Linked DNA regions of Homo sapiens: region 1 is linked to region 2. Evidence: fine-mapped expression QTL. A gene starts in region 2. The other region holds a variant in brackets. All regions are shown on one strand. Distances are from middle to middle.

Region 1 (13,935 bases), 20 kb before region 2:
GCGGTCAAATAAAAACCTCATCCCGGTGTTTTCCCTACTAGTTTTTCACGGGGAAAAGGAGTTTGTGCACATCTGACAATTTCCCACGCATGCCCTGCAGAGGCCGGCGAGATGCGGAGTCCGCGGCTGCAGGGTAGATCCCCTCCTCTGCCCAGCTCTGGGCCGAGCCCTTGGCCAGGTGGGGACCGGCGCGGATATGCCTCCGCTGGGCCTGCAGGCGGCGAGACTTACTTGGGTAGCGATAGTAGAATTCGTTCTCCATGTCGCTCAAGTTCTTGTGCGTCCTCTCTGACCACCAGTGGGCGTCGGCCTCGAAGTCGTAGCGCACGAACACCCCGAAGAGAATCACCATAATCACCTGCAGGAGCAGGCAGGTGAGCGGCAGCCGCCAGCGGAGGTTGGTGTTCCAGGCCATGCTGCAGGGGTGCCTGGCCGGGCTGGCAGCGGGCGGTTCGGACGCTCGGAGGCCGGCGGGGCTTTTGAGACCCGGGCAGGGGGGCGGGGCGGCCACGTGGGGCACGGAGCAGCTGACTCGGGCACCGCCCGCGCGCTCGCCCAACTGGCAGGGGCCCAACCCAAGCCGAGGGCCCCAAAAGATTCCCCGCGTCGGGCTGGGGGACAGCGGCAGGAGCAGAGGCTAAGGCAGTGGGCAGGAGGATCAGGGTGCCCCAAATTCTGTGTGTCCCGTTGATACTGGGGCCTTTCTCCTTTTGTTCTGCTGAACAGAGAAACACGGGGATCATTGGCCTCCCAGTGAGATCAGAAGGAATTCCCAGACCTAAGTCATCATCATCAACATCATCATCATCTGCCATCATCATCTGCATCATCATCTGTCCTTTCTTTTTCTGATTATGAAATTCATACAGGGCACATGAGAAACAAGGAATGTTTGGGACACTGTCACACAACAGAGCGGCCTGGGGAGACATCTGTGATGTGCTACCCCAGACTTGACCCTGGAACAGAAAAAGGATGTTAATTGGAAAACTGGTAAAATCCAAATAAAGCCTGAAAATTAGTTAATAGTGACGTTCCCATGTTGTTTTCTTAGTTGGGACAAATGTCATGGTTATGTAAAATGTTAACAGTAGGATAAACTGAGTAAGGGCTATATGGGGACTGTCTTTGCCACTTTTCTGTAAATCTAAAATTATTCCAAAATACAAGGGTTTTAAGAAAAAAAACACGTATAAAGGATTGTAAGAACAATTTAAGAGTTTTTCACAAGTTCATTGGTCCATAGTCAGGAACTGTCTTCTGGTTAAGATCTGTGATCTTGACATGAGTTAACCATAATATTTAGGTCTGGGAATTCCTTCTGATCTCACTGGGAGGCCAATGATCCCCATGTTTCTCTGTTCAGCAGTATAACAGTCTGTATATTGTCTGCTTAGTCTGTATATTGTCAAAATAAATTTGATTTTCTAATTTTTCTTTAAAAATACAGAGATAATTGTAGAGATTTGGAAAATACAGAAAAACACAAAGAAGAAAGTAAAAATCACTCATAATCCCACCACCCAGAGGCAATACTAATATTTTGGTGTATGTACTCTAGTCTTTTCCTAGCTCATTGAAGAGGGGCTGGAGGGGAGCAGGGGGAGTGTTTCAAACGATCATACTAATTTATAGCGTTTTTAACTCCTTTCATATTTTGTAAACACCTTCCCATATTATACTTCTACAACTTTTTTTCTTTTTCTTTTTCTTTTTTATTTATTTATTTTTTTGAGATAGGGTCTTGCTCTGATGCCCAGGCTGGAGGGCAGTGGCTTGATCATGGTTCACTGCTGCCTTGACCTCCTGGGCTCAAGTGATCCTCCCACTTCAGCCTCCCAATTAGCTGAAACCACAGGCATGTGCCACCAGGCCCACCTAATTTTTTTTTTTTTTTTTTTTTTTTTTTTGAGACAGGTCTCGCTCTGTTGCCCAGGCTGGAGTGCAGTGGGGTGATCTCGGCTCACTGCAAGCTCCGCCTCCCGGGTTCACACCATTCTCTGGCCTCAGCCTCCTGAGTAGCTGGGACTATAGGCGTGCGCCACCGCGCCCGGCTAAGTTTTTTTTTTTTGTAGAGATGGGGTCTCCCTATCTTGCCCAGGGTGGTCTTGAACTTATGGGCTCAAGTGATCCTCCCACCTCAGCCTCTCAAAATGCTGGGATTACAGGCATGAGCCACCACACCCAGCCTGCCACAACATAACTTTTATAGCAGGATATACTGTGCTTTATCTAGACAATCCCTAGTGTTAGGTGACGAGCGATGAGGTCATTTTTTATTTGTTTAGTATTACAAATCATGCTGTCATGAACATCCAGATATGTAAGTCTTTGCACAACTTTCTGTGAATTCCTGGAGGCAGAGCTGTTTCAATACATATCTCTAGATGTTCCCCTAGAAAGATTTTACGAGACAAAGCATGCACCCTGTGAGCCAGGGGTCAGTGACTTTTCCCATGCACTCTTGCCAATGCTGGCTTTAAAAAATCTTGCCAGTTGAAATCCCAGATTTGTAAAAGCCACTAATGCCATGTATAACATCTGAGGCTAAGCACCTAATCAGGGTGCTTGGAACTTGAGTGTGGCCACACTGTGCCAGCTTGGGGTACCAGGGTATCCCCACTCCCTTGGCAAAGAAGCAGCCAGACACTGCATGAGCAATACCAGCAATAGGGACCATTTATTAAGTTCCTGCGGTTGCCGGATCCTTTTGATATATATTTAAATTCTCAACTAAACACTTGTGAAGTGGACATTGTAGGTACATGCTACAGTTGAAAAACCTGAGTTCTCAGATTGGCTAAGGAACTTGCTGGAGATTCAAACCCTGGGCTGTCTGATTTCAAAGGCTGTAGTCTTTCTACTGTGCCATTCTGCTTGTCCCCTCTGGAAGGAGCGAGAAGGAGGGTTTGACTTCGTGCATGTGCATTCACTGCTGGGGAGAAAAACTTCAAGTACACGGCAATGGGAGTAAGTGGAGGGAGGGAGACAAGGGCTGGGGTGGGGGAGGCTGCTGCAAGTAGATTCATGAGCATCTAGGTTCCCCACAGGAGCAGTGGCGTTATGGGATAGAGGGCAGTGGGTGGCGTGGTCCCTGAAGCCTGGGCCGGGAGGGGGCAGGTGGAAGACCTGCTCACCAGGCTGGCCTGCTTAAAGGATAGGGAAGCCGGGGTGTCTTGCTCATTGTGAGAACTGCCCTCCCATCCAGACCTCCTCCAGAGTCCCCTAGCACACCTGTGGTGCTGGAACCCGGGACCCCCTTGGGGGACTCCTTGATGGGGCAGGGTACAGGGTCCAGGAGAGAGACGCTGACTCACAAGCCCTGCAGAGGCTCAGTGGGACAGACCTGGAGCCACAGCCAAGCACGGTCACTACCCACAGCCAGCACAAGAAGGCCGTTTGCCCTTGACCTTCATATTTGGTAGACTCAAGGTACAAACGATGGGCTTCAGACTACAAAGGGGATACAAGGTTCAAGGGAGACACTGTTATCAGATGGTTTTTTTCTTGGGTTACATTTCTGGGCCACTCAACTAATATAGGTCATCATGAATTAACATTCAAAAACAAGTCCTGGCCGGGCACAGTGGCTCACACCTGTAATCCCAGCACTTTGGGAGGCTGAGGCGGGTGGATCATTTGAGGCCAGGAGTTTGAGACCAGCCTGGCCAACATGGTGAAACCCCGTCTCTACTAAAAATACAAAAATTAGCTGGCTGTGATGGCAGGCGCCTGTAATCCAGCTACTCGGGAGGCTGAGACAGAGGAATCTCTTGAACCCGGGAGGTGGAGGTTGCAGTGAACTCCAGCCTGGGCGACAGAGCAAGACTTCATCTCGAAAAAAGAAAAAATTATTTGTTTATAGTATATCAACATACCATAGTATTTAACCCTTTATGGTATTTCTCCCTTTGTTTTATTCCAGGAAGCTGCTAGGTCTCTCTTGACCTCAGTGAGCCCCAGCAATCACCAACCAAGGAAGGGGCCCAGGGAGCCTCTTCCAGTCCAGAAGTCTTCTCTTCATCCCTTTCTCTGCGGCAAGACCAACTGTCAGAGCCTCCACAGCCTGAGGGCCTGGGTGGCGTGACCCCTGCAGAATAGGGGGAGCAGAGGGAAAGCTAGGCATTGACGTCCCTGGTTTTACTTCTGCTTCTTGAGTAGTTGTGTGACCCTGGGCAAATTGTCAACCTCTCTGAGTCTCTACTCTCTCATCTGTAAAATCGAGACAGTTATCTCCCCTCGGGTCTTGGTGAGACTTATTCTGAGTAGCTGGGACTACAGGTCTGTGCCACCATGCCCATCTAATGTTTTCTGTATTTTTGTAGGGGTGGAGTTTTGCTATATTGCCCAGGCTGATCTTGAATTTCCAGGCTTAAGTGATCCTCCCACTTCGGCCTCCCCGAGTGCTGGGATTACGGGCGTGAGCCACTGCACCCAGCTGGTGAGACTTATTCTGAGATACAGCATGGCGAAGAGCCCAGCACAGTGCCTGGCATGTGACATGCCCTCAGTTCCTGTTCATTTTTTTCCTAGTGCCTGGAACAATTGAAAAGCATGTGCCACTTGAGATTCTGCAGAGAAAGATAGGTAATCAAGGTTGAAGAACTGAGGCAGGTAAGTGT[A/G]GGATGGTGGAAGGAGTCCTGGCCTGGTGTGGGTCCAGTTTCTGTCTCCCTCTGCTGGTGATCTCAGGCAAATTCTTAGCCTCTCTGGGCTTGCGTCCTCACCTGTGAAATGAAGATTGTGAATGGGTCATTTCCAAAGCTGCTTCTAGTTGCAAGGTGCCCCCCAGCCCAGAGGAGCTAGCCCCTCTGTTGCTTTTCCCCACTCACATGCAGCCTTCTCTCTGGTTGGACAAGCCGAGTGCATTGCTTCACAGCCTCTTGCAGCCCTGCCAGGACCTAAGTCACCCAGGAAAGGCCTCACCCTTGATCCTGGAGTGACCTCAACCACATTCACTGTGTCTCATCCTGTGTGGGGTTTGCAGGCTGCCCTCTTCGGCTTCCTCTGCCTCTCCTCCCAGCATGCCCTCTTCTTCCTTTCCACATTCTTCTCTCTTTCCCACACCCAGCATCCTCCCAGCCACATCGATCATGGCACCTGTCCCCTGTGTGAGGTCCTACCACCCGGAGACAGTGAAGCCCTCTCCTAGTGCCCCCTGCATAATATTTGAGAAGATGAGACCACAGACAGCAGTAGCAACTGCTAGCACCACCTCTGCAGGCTCTACAGGCCCAGTTACTGGAGGTCCAAGTTGAAAGTTGGGCTAGGACAGAGAGCTTTTGGGATGAGGGGGGTGGGGAGCACACCACCCTCTGAAGTCATTCATTCCCTAGAGGGTCCATCAACTCTGTTAAGACAGGGGTAACATCTTATTTATAAATCTGTCCCCTGCTCACAGTATAGTGTGGGGGCACAGAAGAGGCACTTGGGGAGTGTTCTTGAAGGATTGAGGAAGGAATGAATAATATTCTTTGAGCACCTAGTATGTGCCAGGCACTGTTTCAGGTGCTGAGACATGGCAGTGAACAAATGAAGCAACAATCCTAGTCCTGGTGGAGCTGGCATTCTACGAATGGTGGGGAAGGTTGGCAAACAACCTGGTAGTATGTACCTTACTTATCTACTGTGTTTAACAATAGATAGGTAAAGCAGACAGCATGTGGGAGGGTGATACATGCTGTGTGGAGCAGAGGGGAGGAAAGCGGGAGAGAGGAGGCCAGGAGTACAATGTACACTGAGCGGCCAAGGAAGGCCCCATGGAGGGAGGCGGGGAAATCAGTTCATCTGCCGGTGCCCTAGTCCCAGCCCACAGCATTTTGATGTGACTGCCCTTTTTCTTTTTCTTTTCTTTTCTCTTCTCTTCTCTTTTTTCTTTGCTTTGCTTTGCTTTTCTGAGACTCAGTCTCACTCTGTTGCCCAGGCTGGAATGCAATGGCATGATCTCGGCTCACTGCAACCTCCACCTCCCGGGTTCAAGCAATTCTTCCACCTCAGCCTCCCGACTAACTAGGACTACAGGCACCCACCACCATGCCCAGCTAATTTTTGTATTTGTGTAGAGACGGGGTTTCACCATGTTGGCCAGGCTGGTCTTGAACTCCTGACCTCAGGTGATCCGCCAGCCTCGGCCTCCCAAAGTGCTGGGATTATAGGCGTGAGCCACCACGCCCAGCTGTGACTGCCCTTTTCTGAACACCCCAGGCAGCTGTCCCCTTCCTCAACTGCCCTTGGTATTAGTAAAGGCCAAGCTCTCAGTTTCTCCCCTGGGTGGCCGGCAGTTTTATTTCTGGTGCTCCTGGAAGAAAAAATGGCCACTATTCCAGAAGCCTAGGAAAAATGTCCCCTCCCAGAACATTCTGTCTCCAGCTCACATAAGGCATGGCCAGCAGCCTGCCCGCCCACCTCAGGCAAGGCCCAGGTGCTCTGCGGAGTGTCTGTCCTTGTGGGTAAAGGGGGCTGGGGCTAGAGGGGATTGATGAGACAGCGGGAGGGTGGAGGGCTCTCTCCCCACTCTCTCCTATCCCAACCTCCACGTCAAGCATTCATACACTGTTTCTTCCTAGCGCTTCTCGTATCTGTCTATGGTGTCTTCCTACATTAGAACATCAGCACCCAAGGGCAAGGACACCTAGAAGAGATCCTAGCTTGCGGTTGTTGCCCATTAATTATTTTTCCAATGGAATGAATGGATGAATGGATTCTTTCAATTTATTCAGTTATTTAAAACATGTACGGAGCACCCACTGCACACAGCTCCATATCAGGCCCAAATAACTATATAAGCATGCCCCCCAGATTTGCACCATAGAAAAGGAGATACAAGTTTGCCCCAGTGGTTAAAGCAGAATGAGCACTTTCCTGTATACCTGAGGAGAGCTTGATGGGCCCTGGGGTGATCAGGGTGGACTTCATGGAAGAGGTGGACTTTGATCTAGGATTTGCAGGGCAGATAATAGGTAGACCTTCACCCTCTGCCCTTTGGCTTTTCTTGTCTCATGTATGCCCTACCACATGATTCCAGGCTACCTCCCTCTCCCCACCCCAGCTTGGTACTTCAGATGACAACCCAGAGGTGGAATTCTTGCCTTGTCCTCTGAGATGGGGGTTTAAGAAACCTGCTGCTCAAGTCTAACAGGCCAGGCAGGGGTTTTCCTAAGGAACCGGCCTCTTCCTCCTAAAATGTGTGTGCCTTGACAAGCAGGGATGACTGACGGCTGGGACGCGATGGTTCTTTCCCCAGCCAGGGAGAGGCAGGGTGTGGTAGCCACGTTGGCAGGCAGGGAGATGGATTTCGAGGCAAAGGTGGTTCAGGCTGTCTTTCTTCCAGGTGAGGTGGAGTCTCCCCTGCTCTGGTGTGGCTGTGTTGAGGGCGTGGTGCTGGGACTGTCCCTGCTATCACCCTTCTCTCTACTCATCCCTCTTGATAGATGACTGTTTGCATCCTTGACATCTCTGGCCTTGGTCCCACACGCAGCCTGAGGCTGTGGCGAGACACTAGGCCAGGACTCAGAAGTTCTTGGGGCTGGTCCCAGTTTCACAAATTTTGTCAGATCACACCCCCTGTCTGGGCCTGATTTCCTTGATTTGCAAATGGGTGCCTCCGTGTCTGTGCTGCTCAGCTCTCATTTTGCTGTGATGCTCAAAGACCATGCAGCTTGGTGCTTAGCACAGTGACCCAGAGGCTCTAGGAGGCCCGGGCTCCAGTCCCAGCCCTGCCACTTCCTAGCTGGGGGACCTTGGGCAAGCTGCTTAACTTCTCTGGGCCTTGGTTTCCCCATCCATACAGAGGGTGACAGGAGTACCTGGGATGACCTTAATGCATAATGATGCTTTTAACCCCGAGACTGGTAGTATGTACTTGATGAAGTGGCAGCTTTTACTATTTGCCACTAGAAATGAATGGGGGCTGAGCACAATGGCTCAGGCCTGCAATCTCAGCACTTTGGGAGGCTGAGGCAGGAGGATTGCTTGAGCCCAGGAGTTCAAGACCAGCCTAGGCAATATGGTGAAACCTCATCTCAAAAAAAAAGAAAAAAAGAAAAATAAAAAGAAAAGAAGCAATAGGAAAGTCTTTTGTAAACTGAAAAATGTCACAAATATAATTGGTGCTGCTTCTATGACGGTGGGTAATGGCATTCCCCTCTGGTGCTCTCTGAAAAGTCTGCAAAGGCAGGGCCCAGGAGAGGGGGTCCCACGCCCTCCCTGGAGTTGGGAGCGGGGATTAGGGCTGGGGGAATGGGCTAGGGGCCCCGGGAAGCAGCTCTGGACATGCCTCCATCATCTCTAGTCCCTCAAAGCCACAGACAGGGCTGCCTCCCCATACTCATGGGAGATCTTCAGTGTAGGTGGCTTGTGGAGTGAGGGGAAAGGGTGTAGGTCTCTCTGCAAAACTCTCTTCCATGACAACTTATGGGATCAAAAATAAGAACAGCAATAGTGGGGAACTGGACATCATGTGCTGCTCCCTGATGGGCTGCTCCAAGAAGGACACAATCCCAAATGTGCTATTCCTGCCAAAAATGCATACCCTGAATTTAATCACGCAGAAGCAGCAGACAAACTCAAATTGAGGGATATTCTGCAAAACAACTGGTCTGGAGTCTTAAAAAGAAATGTAGGTGTGATGGATGTCAAAAACAAACAAACAAACAAAAAACAAGGAGGGCAAAGATTGTAGGCTAAAGAGACGTGACAAATCCATAAAATGCTTTGATTGATTCTTGATTGGCTCCTGGATCAAGACAAAATCTTAAAAAAAAACGCTATTGGAACAACTGAGGAAAAGGAACTAAGAATGGTATATTAACTAATGGGATTTATTAATGCAAAGTTTTTTAAGGGTTATCATTGTATTGTTGTTATATGGGAGGCTGCTCTTTTTCCTAGGAGATGCCTGGTTTCGAGGTAAAATGTCATATGTCTCCAACACACACAAACATATATACTGAGAGAAATGAAACAAAAGTGGTGAATCCAGGTGAAGGGTATATGCATGTTCATTGTGCTATTCTTGCAACTTCTCTGTTGGCTTGATAATACGTAAAACAAAAAGTTGGGAGAAAAGCCATTGTGGTGCTATCAACCGGAGTCTCTGATATCTACTAGAAAATATCAGCCTATCCAAGGCCGGGAGCAGAAGCCAAAGTCAGAGACCCAAGGCGAGTCCCACACACCCTCTACCTAATTACAGTTCAAACCCTGTGGGGCTTTCTGTGTGTTGTACAGCATAGGGTGAGCACATACCAGGCGCTCAGCACCTACCCCATCCCTGGCACTGTAAAGGCACTGAGATATCAAGATGTGACTTCTGTTCTTTCAGGGCAAACGGTTCAAGGGAGGGTCTTCACTCACTTCTTCATGCTACTGCAGAGTATGTTGTCCATACAGCAGTCCAAAGGCTCACAGATAAACCTCAGGATTCCCAGGGGAAGATGGAAACAGATTAGTGACAGCAGCAGCCTCCATGAACTGGGCGCTCCTAGGAGTCAAACACGAAGCTAAGCCTTGTCTTTGTCTGCCCATCACCATGTGTCCTTTTCATGACAGCTGACCATGCAGGAAGGGATTTTTTTTTTTTTACAAGGTAGAAACTCTGGCTCAGAGAGGTCGATCACTTGTCTAAAAGTCACCCAGCTAGAGGGTGGCAGATCTGAAGAAGAAAGCAGCATGATCTCAGCCGTGAAGAGGTTTAACAAGTTGGCTTAGTGGAGAAGGGCATGCCACGAGCAGCTTGAGGGAAGATGTGGAGGAAAGAAGGTGAGGGCAGGGTTCCTCAACTTCAGCACCAATGACATTTGGGGCCTGATCAATCTCTGTTTTGGGGACTGTCCTGTGCGTTAGCAGCACCCCTGGCCTCTACCCACTGGATGTGAGTGGTCAGGAGTATGACCATCCCCTCGTTGTGACAACAAAAAAGGTATTCACATATTACCAGATGTCTCCTGGGAGATAAAACTGCCCCAGTTGAGAACCACTGGGGTATGGCATCTACACTCTGCCTTAAGCTGGAGGTAATCTCTTGGCACAGCCTTGCTCCTGGCTGGAGGACTGTATCTCTGCCCCTGAGGGTGGGCAGGTGGACAGGGCCTGGTAAGCTCTGCATTATCTCTGTAGGACCTCCCGCAGGGCAGGGCCTCAGGTGCTGGCTGCAGCTCCTCCACCACCACTGTCTCACTTCCATTTCTGCCTTGGCTGCTGTGATGGTTAATTTTACAGGTCAACTTGACTGGGCATGGGGTGCCCAGACATTTGGTCAAACACTATTCTTTCTGGGTGCGTCTATGAGGGTGTTTGTGGATGAGATCATCATTTGAGTAAAGCAGATTGCCCTCAAATATGGGTGGGCCTCATCTAATCAGTTGAGGGTCTGAATGGAATGAAGAGGTTGACCCTCACTCCGAAGGAGAAGGGAACTCCTTCTGTCAACTGCCTTCCAGCTTGTGGTACCAGTGCTTTTCCTGCTTTCAGACTTGAACTAAAACATTGGCTCTTCCTTGGTCTCTAGCCTGCTGACATTCAGACTAGAACTCCACCATCAGCTCTCCTGGGTCTCCAGCTTGCTGACTGCAGATCTTGGGACTTGGCAGCCTCCATAATCATGTGAGCCAATTCCTTATAAAAACTCTCTCTCTGCTTCTCTCTCTCTCTCTACACACACACACACACACACACACACACACACAGTTGACCCTTTAACAACATAGGTTTGAGCTGCATGGATTCACTTATACACAAATTTTTCTCAATAAAAAGTGCACTGGCCAGGTGCAGTGGCTCACGCCTGTAATCCCAACACTTTGGGAAGCCAAGGCAGGTGGATCACGAGGTCAGGAGATTGAAACCAACCTGGCCAACATGGTGAAACCCTGTTTCTACTAAAAATACAAAAATAATTCGGGTGCGGTGGTGGGTGCCTGTAATCCCAGCTACTCAGGAGGCTGAGGTAGGAGAATTGCTTGAACCCAGGAGGTGGAGGTTGCAGTGAGCCAAGATCACGCCATTGCACTCCAGCCTGGTTGATAGAACGAGACTCTGTCTCAAAAAAACAAAACAAAACAACAACAACAAAAATGCACTGAGTGTGCCTGCTTCTCCTGCCTTCCCTTCCACCTCCCCCACATCTTTCTCCTCTGCCATTTCTGAGACAGCAAGACCAACCCCTCCTCTTCCTCCTTCTCCGTCTACTCAATATGAAGATGAGAATGAAGACCTTTATGATGATCCACTTCCACCTAATGAACACTAAATATATTTCCTCTTTCTTATGATTTTCTTAACATTTTCTTTTCTCTTGCTTACTTTATTGTAAGAATACAATATATCATACATATTACACATGAAATATGTGTTAATTGACTGTTCATGTTATTGAAGGCTTCTGATCTGCAGTAGCCTATTAGTAGTTAAGTTTTTGGGGATCAAAAGTTATATGTAAATTTTTGATTGCCTGGGAAGTTGGTGCCCCTAATCCCTGTGTTGTTCAAGGGTCAAATGTTTATGTATATAGATAAATGTTATATATAATATATATGATATGATATATGTCAATGGTATATATAATATATATGATATGATATATATCAATGTTATATATTATATATAATATGATATATAAATATTATATAGAATATGATATATAAATATTATATAGAATATGATATATAAATATTACATATATAATATATAAATGTTATGTATAATATATAATATTATATATAATATATAAATGTTATATATAATATATAATATTATATATAATATAATATATAAATGTTAATATAATATATAATATTATATATAATATAATATATAAATGTTATATATAATATATAATATTATATATAATATAATATATAAATGTTATATATAATATATAATATTATATATAATATAATATATAAATGTTATATATAATATATAATATTATATATAATATAATATATAAATGTTATATATAATATATAATATTATATATAATATAATATATAAATGTTATATATAATATATATTATATATAATATAATATATAAATGTTATATATAATATATATTATATATAATATAATATATAAATGTTATATATAATATATATTATATATAATATAATATATAAATGTTATATATATTATATATAATATAATATATAAATGTTATATATAATATATTATATATAATATAATATATAAATGTTATATATAATATATAATATAATATATAAATGTTATATATAATATATAATATAATATATAAATGTTATATATAATATATAATATGATATATAAATGTTATATATAATATATAATATATACATAATATGATATACAAATGTTATATATAATATATAATATTATATATACATAATATGATATATAAATGTTATATATTATACATAATATGATATATAAATGTTATATATTATATATAATATGATATATAAATATTATATATAATATGATATATAAATATTATATATAATATGATATATAAATATTATATATAATATGATATATAAATATTATATAATATGATATATAAATATTATATATAATATGATGTATAAATATTATATATAATATGATGTATGAATATTATATATAATATGATATATGAATATATATAATGATATATAAATATTATATATGATATATAAATGTTATATATATTATATAATATGAGATATATAAATGTTATATATATTATATATAATATGAGATATATAAATGTTATATATAATATATATAATATGCGATATATAAATGTTATATATATTATATATAATATGAGATATATATGTTATATATTACATATAATATGATATATATAAATGTTATGTATTATATATAATATGATATATAAATGTTATGTTATATATAATATGATATATAAATGTTATGTGTTATATATAATATGATATATAAATGTTATATGTTATATATAATATGATATATAAATGTTATATGTTATATATAATATGATATATAAATGTTATATGTTATATATAATATGATATATAAATGTTATATGTTATATATAATATGATATATAAATGTTATATGTTATATATGATATGATATATAAATGTTATGTTATATATAATATGATATATAAATGTTATATGTTATATATAATATGATATATAAATGTTATATGTTATATATAATATGATATATAAATGTTATATGTTATATATAATATGATATATATAAATGTTATGTTATATATAATATGATATATAAATGTTATATATGTTATATATAATATGATATATAAATGTTATATATGTTATATATAATATGATATATAAAAATGTTAATTTTTATGGGGACACCTGAAACACAGTATATATACTATATATATATATATATATACATATATATATTTATGCAAAATGAAATCTCACATGTCTAGTTCATGCACCATGGTCAGACTGGGATTGGGTTAAAGGCCTTATTTGGAAAGGTAAATGAGATGGGAAAAGAAGACTGGCTTGAGGTTTGACTGCAGAGGCGTACTATATGTATATAGTATGTTTTGAGTGTCTCCATAAAAACTTATGCTGAAATTTAGTTGCCACTGATGGAACTGGGAGGTGGGGCCTTAAAAGGTGATTGGGTCATGAGGGTAGAGCCCTCACGAATGGATTAATGCCATTAACACAGGATTGAGTTAGTTCTAGGAAGTGCATTAGTTCTCACAAGAGCAGCTCATCATAAAGGTGAGCTTAGCTTGCCCTTGCGGTCTCTTCTGCATGTACTTCTTTGCCCTCTCCCCTTCTGTCATGAAAGCCTTCACCAGATGGTCAAGCAGATGCTGGTGCCATGCCCTTGAACTTCCCACCACCATCCCCCACCTAGCCACTATATGGGTTGTTAGATATTTTGACCACCTCCTCTTCGCTCACTCCACTATTCAACTCACTGCATCATCAATGTACTTA
Region 2 (16,860 bases):
CTCCTGGCCTCAAGTAATCTGCCCACCTCGGCCTCCCAAAGCGCTGGGATTACAGGCGTGAGCCACCACACCCCGTGAGTAGAATGTATTAAAACATTTTAAAATTACACAACAATGGATGTTTATTTGTTCTCCTTTGAATGATCTTAGTGAGCCTCCTCACCCTTGCTGCAATACTCCTATCCTGGACTCCAGCTCCCATGTCTAACTTCAAGGTTGACTCATCCCGAAACTGACCTCTCCAACGTCTATCTTCATAAGGGATACTTTTTAAAACTGTTACTAGTTATGGGATACTTTTTAAAACTGTTACTAGTTACTAGGAGAAAATTGGAGAGGGTAGTGGATTTATTCACAGAGACAATCAGTGTTCCATATGAGCTAATAATCTCTGAATTGGTCTTTAATTCAATTATAGCCCCCAAATGGCAAATGGATCTGAGTGCCCAGGGTGGTCCATGGTCGAAGCGAGAGTAATGAGAAAGATCCCAAATACTTTCTTGCTTAAAGCACACCTCACATCTTTGCTTAAAGCCCAAGGGCTTAACAATGAAGGAGGGACGGCTTTCTAGATGAACAGCTGTTCTCCTACAGAACAAGGAGACCAGTTTTTCTTCATTTTTTAAAACCTTGGGGATAAAGCAAAAGACACTGGATTGAATGCAGCAGGAAGGATCTGGATTCAAAATAAGGAAGAATTGCCAAGCTGATGGTGAGAACTAGAAAACCTGGGCATGACCTGGCAGGAGCAGTTGTGCAAGTCCCTCCAGGAAGTCCTGAGTGTGGAAACATACCCTGACTCAGCTGCATTTATGGGGTGAGCATCAGCCAGGCCCTGCTGCCATCATAGGGCCAGGTGGGCTGGGCTGCCAGGGAGGCAGTAGTGTGAGATGGCCAGGGAGCTCACCCCAGCCAACGAATGGCTTCAAGCCATTTCCTGGGCAGGACTGGTCCTGTGGAACAGGAGGGCCAGTCAGGAACCTGAAGCAGCAACCAACTTGCCCATGAGGATTGGGCTCTTATCCACTGTCTTTCCTGACCAACTCATTCTCATCCTTCAGGATTTAAGGCAGATGTCACTTCCTCCAGGAGGCCCTCCCTCAGGGCACGGAGCACACAGAGGTGGACTCTAGGACTCACCTGCTTCCCTCTCTAGTTGCAGGTCCCTTAAGGGGGACTGTGGGTGATTCGTCATTGAGTCCCTTGTGACCTCCAGGTGCTTGGGAGATGGAGAAAATGAAGGAAGGGAAGTGGAAGCAAGGGAAGGAAAGTTGAAGCAAGGAAAGAAAAGAGAAAGGGACGAGGAAGAGAGGGAAGACAGAGAAAGGAAAACTCTTGTGCCCAGAGATTGTACAGATTGTCTAAAGAGTCTCACCCCTGCTGGATGGACAGTGGCTTTATCAGCAGCAACACTATCTCAGCCTCCCGGGCAGCTAGGACTCTGGCTGCCTACACATTTTTTGCTCCATGCAGGCCCAGCTCAGGGAGAGGTACTCAGGCCCAGGCTGGTGGTGCTGAGTACCAGGACTTGGAGTTAAGGGGGCTTGCTGTGGGCACAGTTTGGCAAGTGAAGACGGACAGCTCTGGGGGCCACAAGAGAGCTGGGTAATAGAAGACTTTATGAAACCTGTATTAGATCTAGTTCTTGTTCATTTCTACTTGCTCACGTTATAATTCCAGAGCTGTGTTCTTAGAGGGAAATGTACTTTTATTGAAATGTTTTTCATAAGATGACAGTAGCCTTTCCTGATTATGAAGAAACCCTGTTGGCTGGGCATGGTGGCTCATGCATATCATCCCAGCACTTTAGGAGGCTGAGGAGGGCAGATCACCTGAGGTCAGGAGTTCAAGACCAACCTGGTCAACATGGTGAGACCTCGTCTCTACTAAATATACAAAAATTAGCTGGGCGTGGTGGCAGGCACCTGTAATCCCAGCTACTCAGGAGGCTGAGGCCGGAGAATCACTTGAACCCGGGAGGCAGAGGTTGCAGTAAGCCGAGATTGCAACACTGCACTCCAGCCTGGGTGACAGAGACAGACTCCATCTCAAAAAAAAATAAAATAAAAATAAAAAATAAAGAAAGGAACCCTGTTATAACAAATATGAAGAATACAAAAATGATTTGAAATCCTAGAGATAACCATTGTCAACATTTTGTTGTATATTGTTCTAGAATGTTTATATACTTATATTTAGGTATTCTTATATTTGCATATTAATATATTTAAATATATAAAATATTTTTTAAAAACAAAAGGTGGAATCACATTATACATAGTGTTTTATAAACTGATTTTTTCCCCACTCAGTAATGCCTTACGAACTTTTCTTACCAGTAAATAAAATTTCACATCATTATAGTGGCTGCAAATATTTTACTTAATGAAGGTAACATAATTTATTTAACCTCTTTGGCCATTTATGATTTCCCCCCAGTTTTTTACTCTTAAAAACTACTTTTGGGAAAAGTGAACCCCGGCAACATCATTAAAAACAAAAACAACTATACCACAAAAGTCAGGTGAAAAAATCAGATGTGATTTTGAACTACAGTTTTAGAAATAACTTCCTTGTAAATAATCGACTGTATTGTTAATTAAGTCAAATATTGTGGGAGAAACAGAACGGGGCATATCTGAGACTGAAATAATTGATAGTGAGGTATGGAAAAGGAAAGTTTTCATTTTGAAAGGAACACTGAGCTTTCGCTGTTTTGCAAAAATATACTTGTCTAAATATAGTTGTTTTGAACAATCTGTTGCCTGTAATCATTACCTCTACCAATCCCCTGTGGTATTGTGTCCTTTCAGGGTACGAGTGTTGGTCTGTCTATAAACACTAGAGATTTCTCCCTCTTCCAGGCATTTTGCTAGCCTCTGAGGATGGAGCAGTGAATAAAACCCACCCACACCTTATCCTCCTGGCAGTTAGCCTTAGTGGAGAGGCACAAGGGCTGCCTGTCTGGTGAATGAGATGATACTGTTAAGCACACCAGGATGCTGGAATCTCCTGCCTCTTACTGGCAGATAACCTGCCCCTCCCAGAACTTAGAGAATACTAAGTGCACAGGACATACCTGCCACCAGACCATTCAGGTACATGGTGTTTTTACTACCATTTCTGAGATCAGGCAAGTTTCAGATCTGTTTTCATGAAGCTAGAAGAGGGCTTAAAAGTCACCTTGTCCAACTGACCTGGCCTGTTGAGGCTTGAATCTTCTCTCTATAAACCTGAAAGAATTAAAAGGATCAGAATCCAGTTTAAAGTTTATTCAGGTGAAAAGGTGAAAATGATCATCCAGGAGACAAAGACTCCAGAGAAATGGGATCCGTGCTCCAAAGTTAAGAGTTAAGTTCTTGCTAATACAGGTAGAAAACAAAGAAATTTAATGGGATTACAGCATTTTCTATACAAGAGTGGTATAAGAGTTACAACAAATTAATTAGTGATAGTCTGTTTTCTTTTCTCTACAGTTTGTTTTCCTTTCTTTACAGCTGATTTTCATTTCCTCACTCAATTTAAAAGAGTATATTTAACATTCCATCTTAAGGCAATGTGATAGCCATAAAGTCTTTATGTGAGAAACGTAAGAGGGAAGTTAATCTATAATGAAGATTAACAATCAAAGGGAAGGGTCAACATAAAAAAATCAAATAAATTTCTATATATTAGTAATAAACAATTGGAATTTGAAAAAAAAATTGAAGCTTTATTTACAATAGTACCAGAAAACATGAAATACTTAGGTATAAATCTGACAAAATATGTGCAAGGTCTGTCTGCTGAAAACTATAAACTAATAAAAAAAATCAAAGAGGCCAGGTGCAGTGGCTCACACCTGTAATCCCAGCACTTTGGAAGTCCGAGGCGGGTGGATCACCTGAAGTCAGGAGTTCAAGACCAGCCTGGCCAACATGGTGAAACCCCGTCTTTACTAAAAATACAAAAAATTAGCCAGGACCGTGGTGGCTGGTACCTGTAATCCCAGCTACTTGGGAGGCTGAGGCAGGAGAATTGCTTGAACTGGGGAGGCAGAGGTTGCAGTGAACCGAGACTGCGCCACTGCACTCCAGCCTGGGCAACAGGAGCAAAACTCCATCTCAAAACAAAATAAAACAAAACAAAAACAAAACAAAACAAAACAAAAACAAAGAAAACCTTAAAAAAAAGAAGAGGCATACCATGTTCACGGATTGGAAAATTCAATATTGCTAAGATATAAATTCTTCCCACACTGATTTAGATTCAATGCAATTCTAATAAAAATTCCAGCAGAATTTTTTTTTTTTTTGTAAAAGTAGACAAGCTGCCAGGCGTGGTGGCTCACACCTGTAATCCCAGTACTTTGGGAGGTCGAGGCGGGTGGATCACAAGGTCAGGAGATCGAGACCATCCTGGCCAACATGGTGAAACCCTGTCTCTACTAAAAATGAATACAAAAATTAGCCGGGCATGGTGTCGTGTGCTTGTAATACCAGCTACTCGGGAGGCTGAGGCAGGAAAATCGCTTGAACCCGGCAGGCAGAGGTTGCAGTGAGCCGAGATCACGCCGTTGCACTCCAGCCTGGGTGACAGAGAGAGATTCTGTCTCAAAAAACAAACAACAACAACAAAAAAAAGTTGGCAAACTGATTTTAAAGTTTGTATGAAAAGGCAATGGGGCTGGGCATGGTGGCTCACACCTGCAATCCCAGTACTTTGGGAGGCCAAGGTGGGTGGATCACCTGAAGCCAGGAGTTCAAGCCCAGCCTGGCCAACATGGCAAAACCCCATCTCTACTAAAAATACAAAAATTTAGCCAGGTGTGGTGGCGGGCACCTGTAATCTCAGCTACTCAGGAGGCTGAAGCAAGAGAATTGCTTGAACCCAGGAGGTGGAGGCTGCAGTGAGCCAAGATTGCACCACTGCGCTTCAGCCTGGGCAACAAGAGCGAAACTCCATCTCAAAAAAAAAAAAAAAAAAAAAGGAACTAGAATAGTCAGAATAATTTCAATCAAGAACTACGAAGTTAGGGAATTTCTACTAATTTCATGACTTACTCCAAAGCTATAATAATCAAGATAGTTGGTACTGGTGAGAGAATAGTATACATCAAGCCCGTCCAACCTGCAGCCCATGGGCTGCATGCAGCCAGGATGGCTTTGAATGTGGCCCAACACGAATTCATAAACTTTCTTAAAACATTATGAGTTTTTTTTGCAATTTCAAGAAGCTCATCAGCTATCGTTAGTGTTAGTGTATTTTATGTGTGGCCCAAGACACCTCTTCTTCCCATGTGGCCCAGGGAAGCCAGAAGATTGGACACTCCTGGTATATATAAATAGAACAAAATAGAGTCCAGAAACAGACTCACACATATATGGTCAATTGAATTTTGACAAAGCTGCAAAGGCATTTCAGTGAGGAAATAATAAACTTTTATTTTCATTTTTTTGAGACAGGGTCTCTCTCTCTCCAATGTCCAGGCTGCAGTGCAGTGGTCTGATCACAGCTCACTGCAGCCTTAACCTCTGGGGCTCAAGTGATCCTCCCACCTCAGCCTTCCAAGTAGCTGGGACTACAGGTGTGCACCACCAGGCCCAGCTAAATTTTTTGGTATTTTTTGTAGAGATGGGATTTCACCATGTTACTTAGCCTGGTCTCAAACTCCTGGGCTCAAGCAATCTGCCTGCCTCAGCCTCCCAAAGTGCTGGGATTACAGGTATGGGCCACTGCGCCCAGCCAAGAATAAACTTTTCAACAAATGGCGCTAGAACAAATGGACATCCATATGAAAAAACTAAACAAAACAAACCTCAATCTATACCTCACATTACTTACAACATTTAACTTAATGTGGATCATAGGCCTAAATGTAAAATCGAAAACAATAGGACTTCTCAAAGAAAAGATTTCTTAGACACGACACCAAAGGCATAATCCATAAATTTTGGGGGATAAATTGTACTTCAACAAAATTAAGAAGTTCTGATTTTTTAAAGACTCTGCTAAGAGAATTAAAAGATAAATAATGGTCTGGAAGAAAATATTTTCAACTTACGTATCTGATAAGTGACTTCTATTTAAAATATGAAAGAACTCTCAAAACTCAATAATATAGCTCCTCAAAAAATTAAAAATAGAATTACCGTATAACCCAACAATTCTACTTTTGGGTCTATAGCCAAAATAATTAAAAGAAGGGTCTTGAAGAGATATTTGTACATCCATGTTTATAGCAGCGTTATTCACAATAGCCAAAAGGTGGAAGCAACCCAGATGTCCATCTATGAATGAGTGAATACATAAAATGTGGTGGGTGTGGTGGCTCACATCTGTAATTCCAGCACTTTGGGAGGCTGAGGTGGGAGGATTACTTGAGTCCAGGCGTTCAAGACCAGACTGGGCAACATAGCCAGACACTATTTCCATAATATATATATATATATGTAATAAAAATACAAAAAAACCCACAAAATGTGGTGTCTACATGTAATGGAATATTATTCAGTCTTAAAAAGGGAATTCTGACATATGATACAACATGAATGAACCTTGAAGACATAATACTCAGTGAAATAAGCCAGTCACAAAAGGGCAATACTGTATGATTCCACTTACATGAGGTATCTAGAGTAATCAAATTCATAGAAAGAAAGTTGAACGGTGGTTGCCAGGGGCGGGGGAAGGGGAGAATGGGAAGTTCCTGTTTGATGGGTACAGTGTGTCAGTTTCGCAGGACGAAAAATTTCTGGGCCCAGCACGGTGGCTCACGCCTGTAATCCCAGCACTTTGGGAGGCTGAGGTGGGGGGAATCACTCGAGGTCAGAAGTTCGTGACCAGCCTCCATGTAACAAATCCAACTAGCCAAGACTCTCATGCCAAAGAGGCACATGTAGGTGGTCTGGTTGACAGTCTCAAATGGAGTCCTCTGCCAACTGTCAGCATCTTCTGCCAGTGGTGAGTGAGTCATCTTGGACACCCAGCCCATTTGAGCCTTCAGATGATGACAGCACCATCTAGTATCTGACCATAACTACTTGAGAAATCCTCAGCAAGACCTGCCCAGAGAAGCCTCCCAAATTTCTGGCCCACAAAATCATGAGCAAAAAACCTATTGCTTCAAGCAGGTATGTTTGGGGATCATTTGTTATGCAGCAGTAGAAACTAGAACATTGAAACTCTTGCTTTCTTATCTTGCCCCACAGAAAAGTATATATTCTCAGCAATCAGAAAGACAATAGGGCAAAAGGCAGGAAAAGCTCTAAGTTTATTGAGTCCTACCACAGGACAGATACTTTACAATCCCACCTAGCATAACCCCCATGATTCTGTGAGTTGGGGACAATGTTTCTTTGTCAAAAAGAGAAAGGTAGAGTTCAGAGGGGACAAGGCTGTCAGATTGCAGAGGTGGTGCTCTTTCTGCTGGAGCTAAATGTCCCAAAGTAAGACCGCAGAAGCAAGAGTCAGGCAAGAAAGTTTGATTTCACAACATATTGTTGCTAGGATAAAGCCCTCAGGAGCTATGTGATCCTTTTAAAGGATAAAGTGTCCATTTTGCTTCCCTCCTTCCTCCCTGCAATTAGTCAAATGGCAGGTGGAGCATGTAGTCTGTGAGGCAGAGCTGAGGAGTGAGAACTTTCATAGAAACTTCCACTTACAACCAGGTATGGTGACTCATGCCTGTACTCCCAGCACTTTGGGAGGCCAAGGCAGGAAGATCACTTGAAGCCAGGAGTTTGAGATCAGCCTGGGCAATATAGTGAGATTCTGTCTCTACAAAATATTTTTTTAAATTAACTGAGCATGGTGGCCCTTGCCTGCAGTCCCACCTACTTGGGAAGCTGAGGCATGAGGATAGCTTGAGCCTAGGAGTTGGAGGCTGCAGTAAGATGTGATCACACCACTGCACTCTGCCCTGGGTGACAGAGAAAGAGCCTGTCTCTAAATAAATGAACAAGTAAATAATTTTTTTTAAAAAAGGAAATGTTCAGAGCGTTGCAGAGTGTTACAGAGAGGAAACTTCTAGAGTCTTCACACTTGCAAATCACTTCCTTTAGCTCTCAACTCATTGAAGACTTGAGCTGAGCCCTCCAGGTGGTCAATTTGAAGACATATGAGGCATAGAAGTGCCTTGGTGAGTCCCTATTATGGGCCGGACGCTGTGTGCACTATCCATGATCCTGCAAGAATGACATTGCTATCTCCCATGGCAGATGGAGAAACAGTCACAGGTGATTAAGTTATTTGTCCCAAATGTCACACAACTAGGAAGTACAGGCTAAAGAAGGGTCCCAGTGCAGCAGAGTATGGGTGAGTAGGCAGGCAGACAGGCAGTGTGGCCCCACTGGCACAGAGCCCCGAGGCAGAGCCTCAGAGACACCAGTTCAGGGTTCCTGCAAGCTGCGGACCAGGAGAGGAACTAGCAGAATGTGGGGTCCCCAGAGGACATAGAATCAAAGATACTAGAGAGAGAACAATGTCCTCATCAACATGGAGCTGATGGAGCAGAACCCCTAAGGATACTGTTTCACATTCATTTACTCCCCAGCTAGCAGGGATTGTCTGATCCAACCCCTCGATTCTGACATATAAGGCAACTGAAGCCAGAAGGAAAAAGGGACATGCCTGAGGTCCCCCAGCTTGCCAGAAGCAGGGCAAGACAAGAGTTCCTATTCCTGATTCAGGGTCCAGTGCTCTTTCAGAGGCACCTTCCTGAATTCTGAGATTAAACTCAGGCTTTAAGTAGGGTGACCCTTTCAATTTATGATCCAAACCAGAATAAGGGCATTATTAATAATTACAACAGGATGGCAGGTGTCAACAGGACTGCCCTGTGCAAATGGGACACACAGTCATTCTAGCATGGCATTCTAGAATGCCACCCACTTGCCCACCAGGAAAGCCTCTTCACAGCCTTATGGTTGTGGACCTGACAACTCACTGTCATCCTCCATGCCAGGTGAGGGGCTGATGGACCAAGCAGCCCTGAGGGTCTGGCTTTCCTAGGGGTCTTTAGGGAGCTCAGAACTGGCTGCTCCAACACTGGCCTCTGTCCCCACCTGGCACTGTGTATGCATAAACAGAGGCCCCATTTGTTCCCACGTATCAGGGGCAAGCTCCCTGCCAAGCCCAGTGGAACTCCAGTTTTAGGTGCTTGCCTCTGGGTGATACCCACTGAACCAAAGCTGTCCTCACTGTGAGACTGTGAATGTGGGGCTCTCCTATGGAGCCCCAGGACAGTGGAAGAAGGCCCCTGCTGGCTTGGTAGCCAGGTCACGGCAGAAACTATAAGGATGTGAGAAGCACACCAAGTGGCATAAACTAGCTGTGCTGTTTCTTCCCCCTCCTTCACTCCTCTGTCCCCAATAGTCACCAGCTTCTGAAACGTTACCTTACACACACATCTGCTGGGGATCTTGTTAAACTGTAGATTCTGATTTAGGAGACCTGCAGTGGAGCCTGAGATGCTGGATTTCTCACAAGTCCCAGGTGATGCCAATGCTGCTGGCCCAGGTGCCACTTGGAATAGTAACCCTCTCTCACAGCATCCTGCTCACTCCCTCCAGAGCAGTAATCATAACTTGTCATTGCTTTCTTATGTGGTTGTTACTGATTGCAGCAGATGTTGCAGTATTTCAAGCCTGATAATCACAGGCTTGAAAAGCACATGTGTGTTGGGCTTGTCCTCTTGGGGAACCCTGCTGCTGAGTGAAGAGCCCATGCTAGCCTGCTGGCGGCCCCTGGCTCAGCCAACAGCCAACATCAACAGCCAGACCTAGGAGTGAGACCATTTAGATCATCCAGCTCCAATTGCAGCCACATGAATTAGTCCAAAAGAATCACCCACCTGAGCCCAGCCCAAACTGCTGACCTGCACAACGGTGAGCACATAAAATGGTCATTGTTTAGGTCACTAAGTTTTGGAGTGGTTTGTTACATGGCAATAGATAACTGATACACTGGTTTAATATCTATGTTAGGGGTGGGACTAGATATGTTTTATTTGGTATGTTACACCCAGTGTTTTGAATTGATGAATAAATGAACTAACCTGGATCTGTCTGATTCTAAAACCCAAGAGTTTCTGCTCCACTGTTTCTGCTCCCTGTTCCCAGACAAGTTGCTCATCCTGGGTCTAGTGAGGTCAAAGTTAGGGTATGTAATCCAGCCTAGGTTAATTAGTGCTTTCCAGTCTACAGTGATCAGTTAAGGGATGAGTGTGTGACCTAATCTAATCCAATCAGATTGAAACTCGGGACTTTCACTGAGAATGGTGGGGAAAACACCTTCTCTTCTCCAGTCAATATAAAGAAGAAATATAGGAATAGTTTCCAAAATCTGACTAATCAGACCTAATCTGACAAGTCACTATAGGAAGGAAGGACTTACACAGGCCCACTGCTATGCTGGGCTTTAACATTTTAGTTGCATTTTGGGGAGGTCCAGGATACTCCCATACTTGGAGGGTGAGAGCATTTAAGCTCTGAGTAAAGTCTTGTCTGATGCTAAAACTACCACTGAGCTTCCAAATCACACGAGTCCAGAAATATATTTGTTTCAGCCAATAGGGCTGGACTTCCTGTTGCTTGCAATTATCAAGCAACAGAATGCTTCCTAACTGGCCGACCTTCTTTCTTCTGGGAATCTAACTCTCCTTTAAGGTCAACCAGATGATCCAGACACTCTAAAATTAACCCAGGTTTAAGCCAGAACAAGAGAAGAATGAATCCCTGGGTGGACGCACAACATTCCCTACAGAATCAGCTTTACTCTCCTGTGTTTTGCCAGAAGAAACATTTCATAAAACTCGTCTTTGAATCTATTGGAAAGATGTTCTTGAGGGTGTGGCTTCCCACTTTCCACAGGGTCTTTCTGGTCTTTCAGCTGCATATTCCTAAGCAGTAGATTAATTTTCTACCACATGGACAGTTATGAACTATGTAACTAACTAGTTTTCCCTTTTGGTCTTGGCTGCCAGGAAACTTTACACCAAATATGTACCCACTTGCAGCAAAAGTGCACAACTCCATGGTCTGTCTTTTTACAGTAGCTTCATTACTGGTTCAATTTTATGTCGTTAGCCTTGTTGTACCGTATTCATTTTTACTTCCTTTGACTTATATAATCTTGCTTCGTTTTGTGTATCCTTATAAGAAAATAGGAGTTATAATTTTTTAAAAAAACACTTTGATTTAGGCTTGGTTAAAATGAAAAGAAGCTACAGGGAGTACTGTTATATCAATCACTTTGAATTTCAGTGAAGGAAACAGAAGGGAGGTATGGAAGAACATATACATTCCAAGGATCTCAAGAGCATAAAGAATCGACACCAAGGCCAGGTGCAGTGGCTCAGGCCTGTAATCCTAGCACTTTGGGAGGCCAAGGTGGGCAGATCACTTGAGGTCAGGAGTTCGAGACCAGCCTGGTCAATATGGCGAAACCCCATCTCTACTAAAAACACAAAAATTAGCTAAGGCGTGGTGGCAGGCACCTGTGGCCCCAGCTATTCGGGAGGCTGAGGCACGGGAATTGCTTGAACCTGGGAGGCAGAGGTTATAGTGAGCTGAGATTGCACCACTACACTCCAGCCTAGGTGACAGAGTAAGACTCTGTCTCAAAAAAAAAAAAAAAAGAATCAAGACACCAAAGTGGGAAAAAGCTTTTAAGTGCAGGTGGCCTCTAGAAGAGGGGGCAAGCAAGGAAACAGATTCTCCCTGAGCCTCTAGAAGGAACACAGCCAACACCTTGATGGTAGCCCAGTGAGACTCATTTTTAATTTCATACCTCCAGAATTGTAAGAGAATAGATTTCTGTTGGTTAAGCCACCGAGTTTGTGGTGATTTGTTACAGCAGCCACAGGAAATGAATATAGGCCCCATTCAGACCTGCTGGGTGGGAGACTCTGCAGGTGGGGTCTGGCGTCCTGTATTTACCAAACTCTTCAGGGGGTTCAGAGGCACGCCAAAGTTTGAGAACCACTGCTCTTAAATGGTGGTTCTTGACCTTCGTGGAACATCACACTCATCCGGGGTGTTTCCAAAAACACTCGTACCCAGCTCTACTCCCAGAAATTCCAATTTGATTGGCTACGGTAAGGTTCAGGCGTTTCATTTGTAAAAGCTCCGTCTACTGTTCTAGTGCTCTGCACTGCCAGAACTGGAAAGCTGGGCTTCCCTTCCCACTTGCTGCTTCCCACTTCTCACTTCTGCCTCTGCTTCCACCTTCTCTTCTCTAGATGTTGGGTCCATCTTAGTCTCCTCTTTCCTTCTTGGCTGAACAGTCGTGAGGCTTCCTCCTGAAATGGCAAGGGATGAGTTTGCCAGTATTTCTAACTAAAGAAAAATTAATTTATAATATGCTATATAATTTTTATTATATGTTAATATAATAAACTCAATACTGTCACAAACCCAATATTCTGGTTCAGGGGACAGATTTAGTCACACACTCCTAGAAGAGAAGGATGTTGGAGAGTGTCTAGCCCCACAACACCCTTTCTAGTTTGGGAAACTGAGGCCCAGAAAGAGAAAGTGACTAGTCCAAGGTTACAGAAGGGAGGCACAGAGCCTGGGACCAAACCCTGGTCTTCTGATCTAAAGCCTGCTGTCCTTTCACCTTCTAACTTTACTCTGGCTCTGTTCCCTGCACTGGAATATAGAGGACTCCAGGCAAGGATCTGGCTCTTAAAAAAAAAAAAAACCAGCCACCCCCTCTCTCCCCATTTCTAGGCAAGGCAGAAGGGGGCCCGTGCAGCAAGCAGGTGCTGGAACCTTCTGGGGATGACCTTGAGCTGGGTCTGGATGGCAGGAATGATTCTGATGACCGATAAGTCTCGATCTTGGGGGAGGAGAGGCAGTCAGCTGAGACTATCGCACCTGGGAAGCAACCAGCCAGGTTGCCACCTGCCCTGGGCAGGACAGCAGCCCAGAGAAAGAGAAGGATGGTGGGGAGGGGTGAGGAGAGGCCAGGCCTGGGCCAAGGGCCTGCAAATAGCCTCCTCCTGACTGCAGGGGCCCTGGGCTAATAGAGGCAGAGAACTGCAGTGAGGTCAGGTCCTCTGGCACCTGGTGCCTGTCTACGCCCTCTCTTAACACGTGCAGGACCGCCGCCTGCCCCCCTCCCCGGCAAGGTTGTACAGCAGAAAGAGGGGTGAGATGGAGGTAGTGAGTGGGTATAGGGAACTCACCCTGGCTGCCTTGTGGCAAGTTTGGGAGAGGCAGTCGTGTGGAGTACTTAAAGGCACAGGCAGTGTTTGGAATCACAGAATCTGTCACTTTCAGCTGTGTGACCTGGAACAAGTCCCTGAGCCTCTCTGGGCCAGTCTCCTCTCCTGTAAAATGGGGATGATTCCTGGTTCTTGTGAGGAGTCTGAGAAAATACATGTACATGTGTGTGCATTTGGGGCTCAGAAAATGGCAGGCAGCAAGCATCATGAAGTGTCCAAACTGCCTGGGTTCACATCCCAGCCCCACCCCTTTCTACCTAGCCGTGACCATGCTGTGTCTATTTCCTCTTCTGGAAAATGGGCTGGCAGTAGCACCTACCTTATAGGAGTCAGTGAATTAACAGATGCAAAATGCTTAGGACAGGGGCCTGGCTCAGTGGGTGCTCCAAACCACCACCTTTAGTTTGGCTTCTGATATCAATGCTGCTGTGTACCCATCGAGGACTCTCATGGCAAGACTGGGAGAGGCAGTAGTGTGAAGTCCTTAAAGTGCTAGGTCCTAGGAGGTCTTCGTACTCACGTAAACATTTATAAGACTAGAGAAAAAAAATTACTGGCTTCAAAATATGAAAGGAAAACTGCAAAGTCAAAATTAGTGACCCTTTTGCTAAATGTCCACAAAACACACTATTACTTCAACTTTATAAACTATGTCTGAAACATGTCATAACACTTGAAATCAATTTATTGGCTAGATTATTCTCCTTCTTCAAGAACTTAAGTGACTAACGATGACTAAAAAATCAGAACAAGCATAACTTATGTAACTCGTAACAAAAGAACTTCACATGCAAAATTACAAAAATTATTTTAATAGATCATTGTAACAATTGAAAAAAAGGCAAACACTTTAGATCTCTGTAAGGAATATATATAAAGTTTAAGGAAATAAATGGGAACAATATCCTCCAAATTTAGGGTGGTAGTTATCTCTGCTGTAAGGAGAGTGGATCAGAGAGGCCACACAGGATGTTTCAACCCTCTAGGTAGCATTTTATTTCTTAAGTTAGGTGGTGAATCCCACAGATTTGTACTGTATTATTCTTTGTCTCCTTTTTGTACATATGAAAAATGTTGTAACAAAATTTAAAAGTATGGTTTGGTAGCAAAAAGAAGAGCAAGAAATGTCCCCGGATAATTTCAAATTATTTTATGGCAAATTTGTATTTAATGAGAAATGTTAGGGATTTCACATTCCTACATAATGTCAGGCAGGGTTTCCAAAAGCAAGTCCCCAAGGCCCTGACTCTACCAATGGTCCTCCAGGCCCCAGACCCCTCACCTGGTGTCTTAGCTTGCTCGGGCTGCTATAATGAAAATGGATGGCTTAGCAGAAATTTATTTCTCACAGTTCTGGAGGCGGGAAAGTCCAAGATCAAAACACTGGTGGACTCAGTATCTGGCGAGAGAGGTGAGGGCTAGGAGATGGGGTGGAAGGCTGGACTCAGGGGCAGCCTCAGGATGGAGCAGGCAGCCTAGACCCTTGGCTAATGCCAGTCTCTGCTAAGTTCAACCCTGGGGGAATTTGTCCAATTCTTGGCAGATGCAGTCTCTGTTGTCAAGGGTCTAAAGGTCAGTGGAGAGAGATCCACAAACAGGCATGAAAGAAGGTAAACACACTGATTACCTTAATTTACTGAAAGGCTGTGGCAGGGGTCCCCCATCACCACCCTGTACTGATTTGTGGCCTGTTGGGAACCAGGCTGCACAGCTGGAGGTGAGTGGCAGGCTAGCGAGCATTACCACCTTAGCTCCACCTTCTGTCAGATCAGCTGCGGGATTCAATTCTCACAGGAGCTCCAACCCTGTTGTGAACTGTGCATGTGAGGGATCCAGGTTGCATGCTCCTTATGAGAAACCATACCCGCCGCCCCTACTCCCTCCATGGAAAAATTGTCTTCCACAAAACCAGTTTCTGGTACCAAAAAGTTTGGGGAATTCTAGGCTATGGGAACACATCATTCTTTGTGGGGAATATAGGAAGCATCTCCTTTAAAATCCACATGAGGACAATGCCCACTGTCACCCCTTCTACCTAGCATGGCTGCAGAGGTCAAAGTCAGGTCATAAGACAAGATAATGAAATTAAAGGAGTAAAGTTCAGACAGGAGGAAACAAAATTATAGTGGCAGATTATGCGATCACATTGAAAACCAAAAGAATCAATAAACAAATTATTAGAAACAAAAGAATTAGCAAGATGGCTGACTATACCATCAATAATAATCATTTTAATTTACATTGACTCCCATTATACATACTAATAATAGCAATAGTTAACCTTTCCTTTTTTTTTTTTTTTTTTTTTTGAGACGGAGTCTCGCTCTGTCACTCAGACTGGAGTGTAGTGGCGCAATCTCGGCTCACTGCAACCTCCGCCTCCCAGGTTCAAGCGATTCTCCTGCCCAGCTTCCTGAGTAGCTGGGATTACAGGTGCCCACCACCACGTCCAGCTAATTTTTGTATTCTTGGTAGAGACGGGTTTCACTGTGTTGGCTAGGCTGGTCTTGAACGCCTGACCTCAAGTGATCCACCCGCCTCAGCCTCCCAAAGTGCTGAGATTACAGGCGTGAGCCACTGTGCCCGGCCTAGTTAACCTTTCTTAAATCAACATGCTTTGCACTCACTCTATGCTAAAAGCTTTCTATAGATCAGCTGTGTGCTTTGAACTACCCTGTGGAGTTGGCACTATCATCATCCCCATGTTAAGAAGGAGAAAACTGACAGTCAGAGAGATCAAGCAAATTTCCCATGGCTACATAGCTGGTGTGTGATGGAGGTGGGACCGCTTCCTATTACCTGCTACCTCATCCTGCACACTCCAGTGCACAAATCTCTGATGTCCAGGGTGGGACTCCAGATCTCAGGCCTTTCTCTCATTCTCTGCACATCACGAAAGTTTCCAATATTACTGTGTGAGCAGAGAGAGAGGGAAGGAAGGAAGGAAGGCCCAGTAGGGGCAATGAAACTTCCCTCCAGCCTACTGCAGTCAGACTTAACCTGAACTAAAGAAAATAAGTAAGTGTGATGTTTCTTGCGCACCTGAATTGTGGCTGCAAAGTTTCGCGTAGTGTGTTTCCTTTAATCTTATTCAAGCCTCAAAAGAGCTGTCTCCATTTTACCAATGAGGAAAGTGAAGCTCTGAGAAATTCAGAGACTTGTTCAAAGTCATGGAGATGGAAAGTGGCAGAGGCACTGTTGGATCCTAAGCTCACCGACCAGACATCAAGCCTGTTTAGACTTTTTCAAGGAGCTAGCAGGGAGGCAGACAGGGGCACAGTCATCCATACGGCAGTGTGGTGAGAGTGAGCCCTGGATAGACACCTGTGAGGACAGGAGCAGCTGAGGATTATTATTATGAGACAGGTTTTTAATTATTATTATTATGAGACAGCTTCCTGGAGGAAGTGGCTTTAAGCTGGGTGTTCAAAGATGAGTAGGAAAGAGCCAGGAGAAAAAAGCACTGAAGAAAGCATCAGGTGCAAAGGCCCAGAGTTGATAGAGAAGTGGGAGGTTCTCTCAACAGCCGGTAGCTCAGACAAGGCGGGAAAGAAACTGGCTGAGGAAGTCTTCTGTATCCACTGCTGACCACTGACCCAGCCCACCAGCCAGAGCCCCTAGATAGCAGCAGCACCAGCTGGGGCCTCACC

Direction of the effects. Positions count from the first base shown, and alleles are read on the strand shown. Sizes are in standard deviations (SD) of each study's normalised expression.
For the expression in esophagus mucosa of the gene that starts at base 9,830 in region 2, G is the high allele of the variant in region 1 and A is the other (moderate effect, 0.50 SD a copy in GTEx).

Evidence for each region. PIP is the estimated chance that this variant, and not a neighbour inherited with it, causes the effect.
Region 1: its variant is fine-mapped to the expression of LINC00928 in esophagus mucosa (GTEx, PIP 0.96).

The regions. Positions count from the first base shown.
Region 1 is chr15:89,496,130-89,510,064 of GRCh38, forward strand. RHCG (Rh family C glycoprotein) reads right to left here and starts at 454. Exons shown (of 11, transcript NM_016321.3): 1 at 232-454. The coding sequence starts at 415. LINC00928 (long intergenic non-protein coding RNA 928) reads right to left here. Exons shown (of 3, transcript NR_027077.1): 3 at 8,801-9,649. The variant A/G (reference allele first, on the strand shown) is at 4,623.
Region 2 is chr15:89,514,205-89,531,064 of GRCh38, forward strand. It overlaps LINC00928 (long intergenic non-protein coding RNA 928), which reads right to left and starts at 9,830. Exons shown (of 3, transcript NR_027077.1): 1 at 9,377-9,830.